Regions from separate parts of the Homo sapiens genome. Here region 2 is linked to region 1. The links come from fine-mapping of genetic effects on gene expression. A gene starts in region 1. The other region holds a variant in brackets. All regions are shown on one strand. Distances are between the middles of the regions. Region 1 holds the start of SLC37A3 (solute carrier family 37 member 3). Region 2 overlaps SLC37A3 (solute carrier family 37 member 3).

What was found.
Region 2: its variant is fine-mapped to the expression of SLC37A3 in transverse colon (GTEx, PIP 0.92).

The regions. Positions count from the first base shown.
Region 1 is chr7:140,395,464-140,400,844 of GRCh38, forward strand. SLC37A3 (solute carrier family 37 member 3) reads right to left here and starts at 3,067. Exons shown (of 15, transcript NM_207113.3): 1 at 2,953-3,067. RefSeq lists silencers at 2,605-2,874, 2,985-3,214.
Region 2 is chr7:140,348,522-140,353,902 of GRCh38, forward strand. It overlaps SLC37A3 (solute carrier family 37 member 3), which reads right to left. Exons shown (of 15, transcript NM_207113.3): 8 at 3,541-3,625; 9 at 2,752-2,930; 10 at 105-246. Among named protein-coding and RNA genes, the nearest start is that of SLC37A3, 47 kb to the right of the region's middle. The variant C/T (reference allele first, on the strand shown) is at 3,401.

The DNA of each region.
Region 1 (5,381 bases):
TTGGGAGGCCAAGGCAGGTGGATCATTTGAGGTCAGGAGTTCTAGACCACCCTGGCGAATATGGCGAAACCCTGTCTCTACTAAAAACACAAAAATTGGCCAGGTGTGGTGGTGGGTGCCTGTAATCCCAGCTACTTGGGAGGCTGAAACAGGAGAATTGCTTGAACCCAGGAGGCGGAGGTTGCAGTGAACCGAGATCCCCCTACTGCTCTCCAACCTGGGCAACAGAGCAAGACTCTGTCTCAAAAAATAAATAAATAAATAAATAAAAGAACTAGCACACCTAAACTCAGAGGTATATACCAAGGATGGGGAAAAAAAACATCTTACTGGTAAGAGTGGTTCTCTTACACACTCAAAGGAGAGGGGCATTAGATGGGCAATTACTCACCTCCCAGACTTCAGTTTTTATGTCTGCACAGTAAAAAGATTATGTGTTTTCAAAGTGTAAAGAAGAATGTGGGAAATTATTAAATGTATAGTTGAGTTCACCATTTTTACAGTATTGTATATGTTGCAGTTTAGCGTCTCAATGCTCACACTCATACAACTATCTTTTTTTTTTTTTCAGAGACAGGGTCTCACTCTGTTACCCAGGCTGGAGTGCAGTGGCGTGATCATAGTTCACTGCAGCCTCAATCTCCTTCCTAGGTTTAAGCGATCCTCCTGCCTCAGCCTCCAAAGTTGCTGGGACTACAGGTGGGCACCATCACACCTGGCTAATTTTCTTAGTTTTTGTAGAAACAGGGTCTTGCTATGTTAACCAGTCTGGTCTTAAATTCCTGGCCTTAAGAGATAGATCCTCCTGCCTCAGCCTCCCAAAGCCCTAGGATTATGGGCATGAGCCACTGCACCCAGCCACAAGTATCTTTTTTATCCCACATTATCTCATACGAAGCCATTTACTTGAACCTCATAAATCCTTTTTATTCATTAATTCATCCGTCTTCCTGTAATTTTTATCTCTTCTTAAATTATCTCATTACCACAGGCATAAAATACTTGGCATTTATCTGTAAATATCTCTCATTTTATTCCAGGGTTTCCAAAACCACATTCTTCCTCCCTGTTTTTGGACATGTTCCAAAGACAACTAGTTTTCAAGATAAAAATCTTTCCCTCTTCTACCAAAGGATTTATAATCAAGTTAATGGTCACTGCAGTGACATGACATTAACACTGATGAACAGAGCACAAATCAGAACCTTAAACAATGAACAAGGCAGTTGATCCTGACAGCTAGAAAGCAGCAAGATACTGTTGACTTAACTTTTATAAAAGTATTGTTTCCGGGTCACCTTCTTAGGCAGAGACTCGAAATCAAACACTAATAGAAGAATGGTGTCATTCAAGAGACAAGCCAGGTATGGAATCTAAGACCCTCCACTTAAAAGTAGCTTCTCTGAATCTCAATTTCTGTTTTTTTTTTTGTTTTTTTTTTTTTGACAGAGTCTGAGGCCGGGCGCAGTGGCTCACGCCTGTAATTACAGCGCTTTGGGAGGCCAAGGCAGGCGGACCACGAGGTCAGGAGATCCAGATCATCATGGCCAATATGGTGAAACCCCGTCCCTACTAAAAATCCAAAAATTAGCCTGGCGTGGTGGCGGGCGCCTGTAGTCCCAGCTACTCGGGAGGCTGAGGCAGGAGAATCACTTGAACCCGGGAGGCGGAGGTTGCAGTGAGCCGAGATGGTGCCACGGCACTCCAGCCTGGGCGACAAGAACAAAAACTCAGTCTCAAAAAAAAAAAAGACAGAGTCTGGCTCTGTCACCCAGGCTGGAGTGCAGTGGTGTGATCTCGGCTCACTGCAACCTCCGCCTCCCAGGTTCAAGCGATTCTCCTGCCTCAGCCTCCCGAGTAGCTGGGATTACAGGCATGCGCCACGACGCCCAGCTAATCTTTGTATTTTTAGTAGAGACGGGGTTTCACCATGTTGGCCAGGCTGGTCTTGAACTCCTGACCTCAAGGAATCCACAGGCCTCGGCCTCCCAAAGTGCTGGGATTACAGGCATGAGACACCGCGCCCAACCCGAAGCTCAATTTCCTCATGTATTAATTAAATGAGATAATTTATATGGAGTTCTTAGTATAGAGCCTAGTATCCAAGAAACATCAAACAAACTGAAAAGAAATCATTTAAGCACCAAAGCACTGAAGACATTCCCTTCAACAACTGTTATATATATTTATGTATGTATAAATTTGTGTAAAGGTAGAAATAAACCGGTGGACAAAAAGATAACAACTGAATGATTTTGCTCACCCCAGGAACCACTCCTCCCTATAAACTATAAACTTTTCAGTAAGAGTTACCACGAGATAGCCTACCATCTTACATTTCAAAAAAACACTAAAAACTCCGGGGACACATTCCCATTATCTCCTGTCAAAACTGAGAATAAACAGAACACACCCTGCGAAGAATAAGGAGGGAATGACGAATAATTTGACCAAATTCCTTGACTGAGTTCATGCTAGTTACCAGAAAACAAAACCAGTCACTCACTGAGACCACGCTTCTTCTCTGACCTCTATACATCCTTTCCAAAGAGCTTCCTTCCCCACCTACCTGAAAAGCATCCCCTCTCCCCTGGTCCGAACGACAAGCCCTTTTCTGATCAAGTCAGAATCTCCCAGACCCACGGCCGGAGGACAGGCGGGCGAGGAGCACAAAAGCCTCTGCCGCATGGATCGGGGCCGGGCCGCAGGGTCCCCCGGGGGTCCTTCTCCTCCCCATCCACCCCATCGCAGCCTCCCCGTGACGGCCGGGACCCCAGGCCCGGGCCCAGGGAGGAGAAGGAGGGGGCGAGCGGCCGACCCTGCCTGGGCGCCCCACCCAAGGGGGGCCGCCACCTACATCTCCCCACCGCCCTCCCGACCCGGGAAGCCCCTCGGATTGGACCCGCCCCCGCCCCAGCAGGTCTTCGGCCCCACGCATCACCGCTTGCGCACCCGAGATCCGCAGTGGTCGCCGCTCTCCAGCCCCGGCTCCGCTCGCCGGGTCAGCTTGGCTCCGCTGCCCGCCTCCCCCGCCGCCAGCTCACCCCTGGCGGTGCGACCAGGGTTTCCGGACGCCCACGTGACCCTCCCGTCGCGGGGCACGCTGGGAGTTGTAGTCCCGCCACGCGGCCTCACCTGCCGGCGCGGAGGAGGGCGAGGAGGGCGGAGGCTGGGAGCCCACAGAACTCTGCTGCTGCGGACCTGGCCAGTAATGTTAGCTGCAAAAGACGAGAGGTAGAGAGAAGAAATGATATGGGGAGAACTGGTGCATCCTTTTTTTTTTTTTTTTTTTTTTTTTTTCAAAAAAGCGGTATTCGGTCTTTGTTTTTATAAAAAGTAACGTGCTGCTAAGTGTGCTACTGACCGGCCTAAATTTTAGGTGTCTAATTAAATGCAGGCCGGGCACAGTGGGCTCACGCCTGTAATCCAACACTTTAGGAGGTCGAGAAGGGAGGATCACTTGAACCCAGTAGTTCAAGACCAGCCTTAGCAACATAGCCAGACCCCATCTCTACAAAAAATGTTAAAATTAGCCAGGAGTAGTGGCATGTGCCTGTGGTCCCTGCTACTGGGGCGACCGAGGTGCGAGGATCGCTTGAGCCCAAAAGTTTGAGGCTGGCAGCTGTGATTGCTCCACTGCACCAGCCTGGGCAACAGAACGAGACCCTGCCTCCAAAAAAAAAAAATCCAACACAAGTGTCTCACACCTGTAATCCTAACACTTTGGGAGGCCGAAGTAGGAGCATCATTTGAGAACAAGAGTTTGAGACCAGCCTGGGCAAGGTAGTGAGAGCCGCCCCCCATCCACCACCACCACCGCCGCCACCGTTTCTTAAATAAAGGGAAAAAATACAGACACTTGTTCGAATTTTAAAGAAAAAAAACTTCTCTTAATCCAGAAAATCTCCACAACAACCATTACATACCTGTTCTCAAGATAAACAATCACTAGTCTTCAAATAACAGAACTTGACAACACCTTTTGTCAAACATAGTTCCTCCTTACTTAATAGTAGTAATTGGGGAGACCACTCATGTTGGCTTTATCCAGAAGCAAAACAAACTTCGCATAACTTTTTGTTGTTGTTGTTCGTTTTTTAAACTTCGCATATCTTTTTGTTTGTTTGTTTTTTGTTTTTGAGACGGAGTCTTGCTCTGTTACCCAGGCTGGAGTGCAGTGGCGTGATCTCAGCTCACTGCAAGCTCCGCCTCCCGGGTTCAAGGGATTCTCCTGCCTCAGCCTCCCGAATAGCTGGGACTACAGGCGCCCGCCACCACGCCTGGCTAATTTTTTTGTATTTTTAGTAGAGACGGGGTTTCACCGTGTTAGCCAGGATGGTCTCGATCTCCTGACCTCGTGATCTGCCCTCCTTGGCCTCCCAAAGTTCTAGCATTACAGGTGTGAGCCACCGCAGCCGGCCAAAGTTCGCATATCTTTATAGCAGGAGGTAGTTTTACAAATTGGAGCAAGGCGCCCATACCCACTAATTTAGTCTCTTACCCTCATGTAGGAACTGGAAGATACAGGCACTAACTCACGTCTGAATTTCAAAAAGATGACCCCCAAGTCCTTGAGGATACATTTCTGAGTTGTGATACTGGCAAGAGGCTCATTTCGCCGTTATAAAGATTTGTGTACATTCGAAAAGGACAGAGAAAGAAATTTTGAAGGAACAGAGAGAAGGCTGAGAAGTCTCTTTATTTTCAGCAGAGGAATTAAGCCTGTTATTTTTCATTTTTATTTGCCCTTATACAGTGGTAGTTTTGTTTCTAGCCCTTATACAGTGGTAGTTTTGTCTCTAGGCATCCAAGGAGAAATATGATGTCAGGGTGAGCAAAAATAAATGAGCCAAATATGTTACTTTTATTTTTAAAAATATATTGTGAATCGTTTATTTTTCAGCCTAAAAAAGGTAGCAAATTCTGACACATACTACAACATAGACGAACCTTCAAAAACATTATGCTAAGTGAAATAAGTCAGACATAAAAGGACCAGTACAGTACAGTTCCACTTATATGAGGTAGCCAGAGTAGTGAAATTCATAGAGTCAGAAAGTAGCATGGTGGTTGCCCATGGCTGGAGGGAAGGGGAAATGAGAAATTGTTGTTTAATGGCTATGGAGTTTCCGTTTGGGATGCCAAAAAAGTCCTGGAGATGGATGGTGATGTTGGTTGCACAACAATGTATTTAATGCCATTGAATTGTACACTTAAAAACGGTTAAAATGGTAAATATATATACATAGAGTGAAATACATAGTTTTTTGTGTTATATTTACATATGGGTGTATACATATATATGTGTGTGTGTATACTTCAAGTATATAACCTGTGTCACCACCACTCAGGGCTAGAATGCCTTCTTAGCCATGTGGTGG
Region 2 (5,381 bases), 47 kb before region 1:
GTAGAATAAGTAATAAAACTTTAAATGAGGCCAGATTTCACAACCCAGTAAAAGATCACTAGTGACTAACTCTTTATTATGGAAAAGATGTATCACCGGCATACCTATGATCCCTCCAACGTCGTACCAAATGGACAGCTTGTCGGCTTCCGCCTCCTTCCAGCCGAAGTTGTTACTCAGATAAAAGGGGAGCCAGAAGAAGAAGGAGTAATTCACTAACTTCAAGCAGGCGTAGGCCAGTGAGTACTACAAGAAAAGCATTCAACTATCAGCGAGGGACAAATAGCACAGCACGACTACCATTTTTAATGTCATTTAAAAGCAAAACAAAATAAAGGAAGTTAGGATGAACAGAACCTGATTTTACAGTTAAACATCTCTACAAACTCCCACATGCCTGACTTCAGCTAGTCTCCCTCTGCTCTTCATCCCTGTTAACTTCTAGACAGGCATGTACAGCAGGCCTTTGGAATAAAAAACACCTATGGCTACTTCTTAGCTGTGTCCAGTTTCTCCTCCTATCAGTTCTCTGGTAGAAGCAAGCCAGTGTTTTGAACCTATAAGGCAGAGCACATACCCATATTTCTTTATTCACACAAAGAGGAATGGTATTCATGCCACTAACCAGCGTTAACCATAGGCAAAGAAGTCCAGGAAGCATCACGGCCTTTACTGGGAGCAGCCAAACGGGGTTGGTTATTCTACTCCTTGCCAAGGCAACACTGTGAACAATGGACAGCAAAGGGACTACACTACAGTTCCACGGTCTAAGAAAAGCAGCAGCATGATAATTCCTTTCACACTAGTTTTCAAAAGCTCCACATTCCCTGGTCTGGTGGCAAAGAAGAGAGTCTCTCTGGCGAGTCAAAAATGAAAGAACATGTCATCATCGGCCTCGTGGCTCTCCCTTGAGGGGAAAAAAATGCTGCAGCTGCATGAAGATGGTGGTGGGGCTGAGACTCCTATATTCAACACATTACTACCAGGAAATCCTGACATTCAGCATCAAAGGAAAAAGGGGGGGGGGACAGAGGGGCTGACTTCAAAGGGTGTCTGGCTAGTATATTCTTTTCCCTGGAGCTGCCAGTTATTCCCTAGGTATCACTTGTTTTAAAACAGCTTCCCTGGCAGGCAACAGCCACCCCCTAGAGAGCCAAATCCCAATCACGAGTGCATTCTGACCAGACAGCCTGCTACAAAGACAAAGGAATTAAGTTAACTAGATTTCCTTTACATCCCTGCCCATGTCAGAGAACAATAGCTTGTGAAGAACAAAGGAACAGCAAAAGAGGTCCATATTTAGTCACGACAAAGTTCTTTCTCAAAAATTAAACTATTACCAGCAGAGTACTTTAAAAACCAGTTAAAAGATAATAATCAATAGCATAAGAACAGGTCTAAAGCAACCTGCATTTCTCTTATATCATATATCATCACTGGGTTAAAGAATTGTGGAAAATTACATTTTAATTCATACTTAACTTTGTTGGAAATGTTAGTTCTCTCAGCTTGGAGGCACTGACAGAAGGGGATTGACAGGCATGTATTAAGATGGCCTACAGATCACTCTACCTGAGGGATCACATTCATAAAGCACCATTGACAAATGAAATAACAACAGGTGCTTGTTCAAAACACAACAGCCCAATGTTACAGGCCCCAGGGAAGAGTGGAATAATTTCTATTCCATGGGAAGGGGAACTGAGACACACGGACGGGTTGCGTGACTCACCCCAGGTGTCACAGAAAGTTAGTGGGTAAGCTGGAAACATAACCTAGGCCTCTTAACTTCCACTCCAGTGCTAGAGTGCCCGAAACATCAAGACAGAAAAACTGCAGCAGAAGGGATTTAGTGTAGACGTTAGAAGGCTTTCCTGACTGCACAGGCTGTGGAAAACACTGGAATGCATTACCAAGAAAGACTGTGGAGTGCTCTCTTCTGGACCCTTTAAAAGGGGGCAAGCCAGGCGCGGTGGCTCACGCCTGTAATCCCAGCATTCTGGGAGGCCAAAGTGGGCAGACCATGAGATCAAGAGATGGAGACCATCCCGGCTAACACAGTGAAACCCTGTCTCTACTAAAAATACAAAAAATTAGCCAAGCATGGTGGCATGCACCTGTAATCCCAGCTACTCGGGAGGCTGAGGCAGGAGAATCGCTTGAACCCGGGAGGCAGAGGTTGCAGTGAGCCGAGACTGCGCCACTGCACTCCAGCCTGGGTGACAGAGCGACACTCCGTCCCAAAATCATAAATAAATAAATAAAAAATAAAAGGGGGCAAGGCAGACTTAGGAACCATTCACAACCCTTCTTCTTGGTCCACATATAATTCTATAATACTTCGAAAGGCCCAAAAGCACACATTAAAAATTATCAATTTTGCCTTTTTAATCACATACCAGATCAGGGTCAGGAAAGCAGAGCTCTTTGGCCAAGTCTGGCCACGTCTAACTGTCCCATGTTTTCTGTGGCTTATTTTGTTCTACAAAGCTGAGTAGTTGGGGGAGAGACTGGATGGTTCCCCGAAGTCAAAAATATTTATTCTCTGCCTCTTCATGGAAAAGGTTTGTCAACCCCTGCATTAGAGATCAGATAAGCTGAGGGGCACTAGACAACATTCCTCAGCACGTATATTCCTAAAATAAAGTATCCAACAGAGGCTCAATACTTAAGGAAGCTTTATCTCAGGCAGAGGAGATGTCACGGGCTCTCATACCTCCCTGGCTGTGGTAAGATGTAAGCGGTCCTTACCGGTATGACTCCAGGAAGGCAACATGCCTGGTAGAAGCTTATCGCCTTGACTTGGGCAACAGAACTATCATCTTGGATTGAATAATTCGGCTCATATTCGTCTTCATTTTCACCACCATTAATTAATGGCCTGTGTGAGTCTTCTTCAAAGTTTTCTTCTGCCTCAATACCCGAGAGACCTAAAATAACAGCGACAGCCACTGTTTATGGAGTGCCTACCACGTGTGAAGGGCTCTGCATACATCCCTACTTATGAGGTGATGTTATTTTTATTTCCATTTTACAGAAGCAGCAACGAAGGTCCAGAGACCGAGGTCAACTAAGGTCAATTAAAGTCACACAGTCTATCTAAAAATACTCAAAAGATAGAAGAATTGTACATCTGTTTGCTTCTGTGGTTTCATTTGTATGTAATCTGTATTTAACTACAGGTTAAGTATCTTTTTTGTGCATCATTTTTATGGATGAAAAGAAATGTTTCAAGAAGTGAAATCAGAAATACATCTATGTTCATTCCTTGCCAGTGTCTCAATTATAAAAATAATTTGCAAATGCGAAGATTTTCCTGTATCTATAAAAGACGTGCATCACTCCCCTCAAACACGTCCAGCTGTGCCAGGGGCTGGCTACAATGTCGACAGGACTCAAA[C/T]GGCAGTACTGTTCTCCTTTCACTCACTAAAAGGAGCTCAGAGTTTTCCTAGGAAAAAAGAGATTCGATTTCTTGGCCTCAGATTTCCTTTCGGCCATAATAGTAAGACATTCGGAATAGAAGGGGCGGCTTCTCCTCACCAATTTCTTCTGGTGACACCAGGAGTCCAAAGAAGATAACGATCCCACCAGCAAACTGCACAGACGCCGTCACCAGAAAGGCATACTGGAGGAGAGGGGTGAAAGGTGGTCCTTACATATCTGGGGACAGTCATCACAAGCACATTCATTAAAGGTGTGTGGGGGAAGGTGGGGGTGGGGGAGAGGTGGGAAGGGAGACCGGGAAGCAAGGGAGCACCCAGAGCTTCTACTGGGCCGGGCGCCATGCAAAGTGTTCTACTCGTGTTTTCTCATTTAATTCTTCCTGGTGATTGTATGAGGCTCAGAGAGGAGAATGAAGCTCCCCTGGATACTAAGTGGTACTGTTATGATTGTGAAATTAGACTAGCTCCAAAAATCTAGGTCTTTGTATCACATAGCCTCTCATAAAAGACAGTATCTGCCCTCAAAGATATTACATACAGTTGAGGGGATTAAATACATGAAACAATATTATAAAGCACCAAGAAGCTGAATAGATGAGAAGGCCCAATCCTACTGAGAAACATATACGGGAATCCAGATGAAGGAAAGAGCTGAAGAGGTTGAAGCAGTAAGACAATGTCTTAGGGAAGAATGGAAAATCAAAGTCAATTGCCCATCTTTCCAGGCACACGGTAAGCAAAGACACAGGGTGGAAGGAGATAGAAAGCTTACTGCACGACTCAAGGAGAGGGCTTCTGCTAGGGGATAATCAGGAAGAAAACTGATTTGGAAAGGTGACAGCTAGATTAAAGACTCTCAACCCCCAGGCTGCACAGCTGAATTTTTATTTAACAGAGAATGGAACCTGATGTGGACACTGAATTTTTAAACCGATGAGTGACAAAATTAGTGTTTCCAGAAGTCAAATCTGAGAGCAGCTCAGAAGGTGAACTGAAATTTTCATCTGAACCAACTATACAATCCAGGTGTGAGGCTAAGAAGCCTAGAATAAAGGTGGCCATGAATGAAGGGAATGAAGGACTTCTCACTGACCCTAACTACACCAAAATTCTTGGTGAGCTGTTTAAAAATGTATCTACCTTTTAAAAGAGCGAACTTACCTTTAATAATTTAGGTTTTTGAGTAGGTAATATATTCACATGATTCAAGCAACAGAGGAATAAGAGGTACAGTCAAGCTGGGCACGGTGGCTCATACCTATAATCCCAGCACTTTGGGAGGCCGAGGTGGGCGGATCACCTGAGGTCAGGAGTTCAAGACTAGCCTGGCCAACATGGTGAAACCCCATCTCTACTAAAAATACAAAAATTACCCAGGCGTGGTGGCGTACACCTGTAATCCCAGCTACTCGGGAGGCTGAGGCAGGAGAATCTCCTGAACCCAGGAGGTTGCGGTGAGCTGAGATCACGCCATTGCACTCCAGCCTAGGTGACAGAGTGAGACTCTGTCTTGGAAAAAAAAAAAAGAAAGTACAGTAAAAACTCTCCTTCCTACCCCACCTTCCCCATCTGCTCAATTCTCCCGATTTTCCCAACATATAACCATTGTTGTTCATTTTTACTGCCCAGAAATTGTTTTGGAAACATACAAGCTAATACAAGCATATTCTCTTTCATTCTTCCTTCTTACATAAATGGCATTCAATACACAGTTTTGCACCCTTGCTGTCTTCACTTAGCACACTGTTTTGTTTTGTTTTTTTTTTGATACGGAGTCTCGCTTTGTCACTCAGGCTGGAGTGCAATGGCATGATCTTGGCTCACTGCAACCTCCGCCTCTTGGATTCAAGCAATTCTCTGCCTCAGCCTCTGGAGTAGCTGGGATTACAGGTGCCCGTGACCACGCCCGGCTAATTTTTGTATTTTTAGTAGAGACAG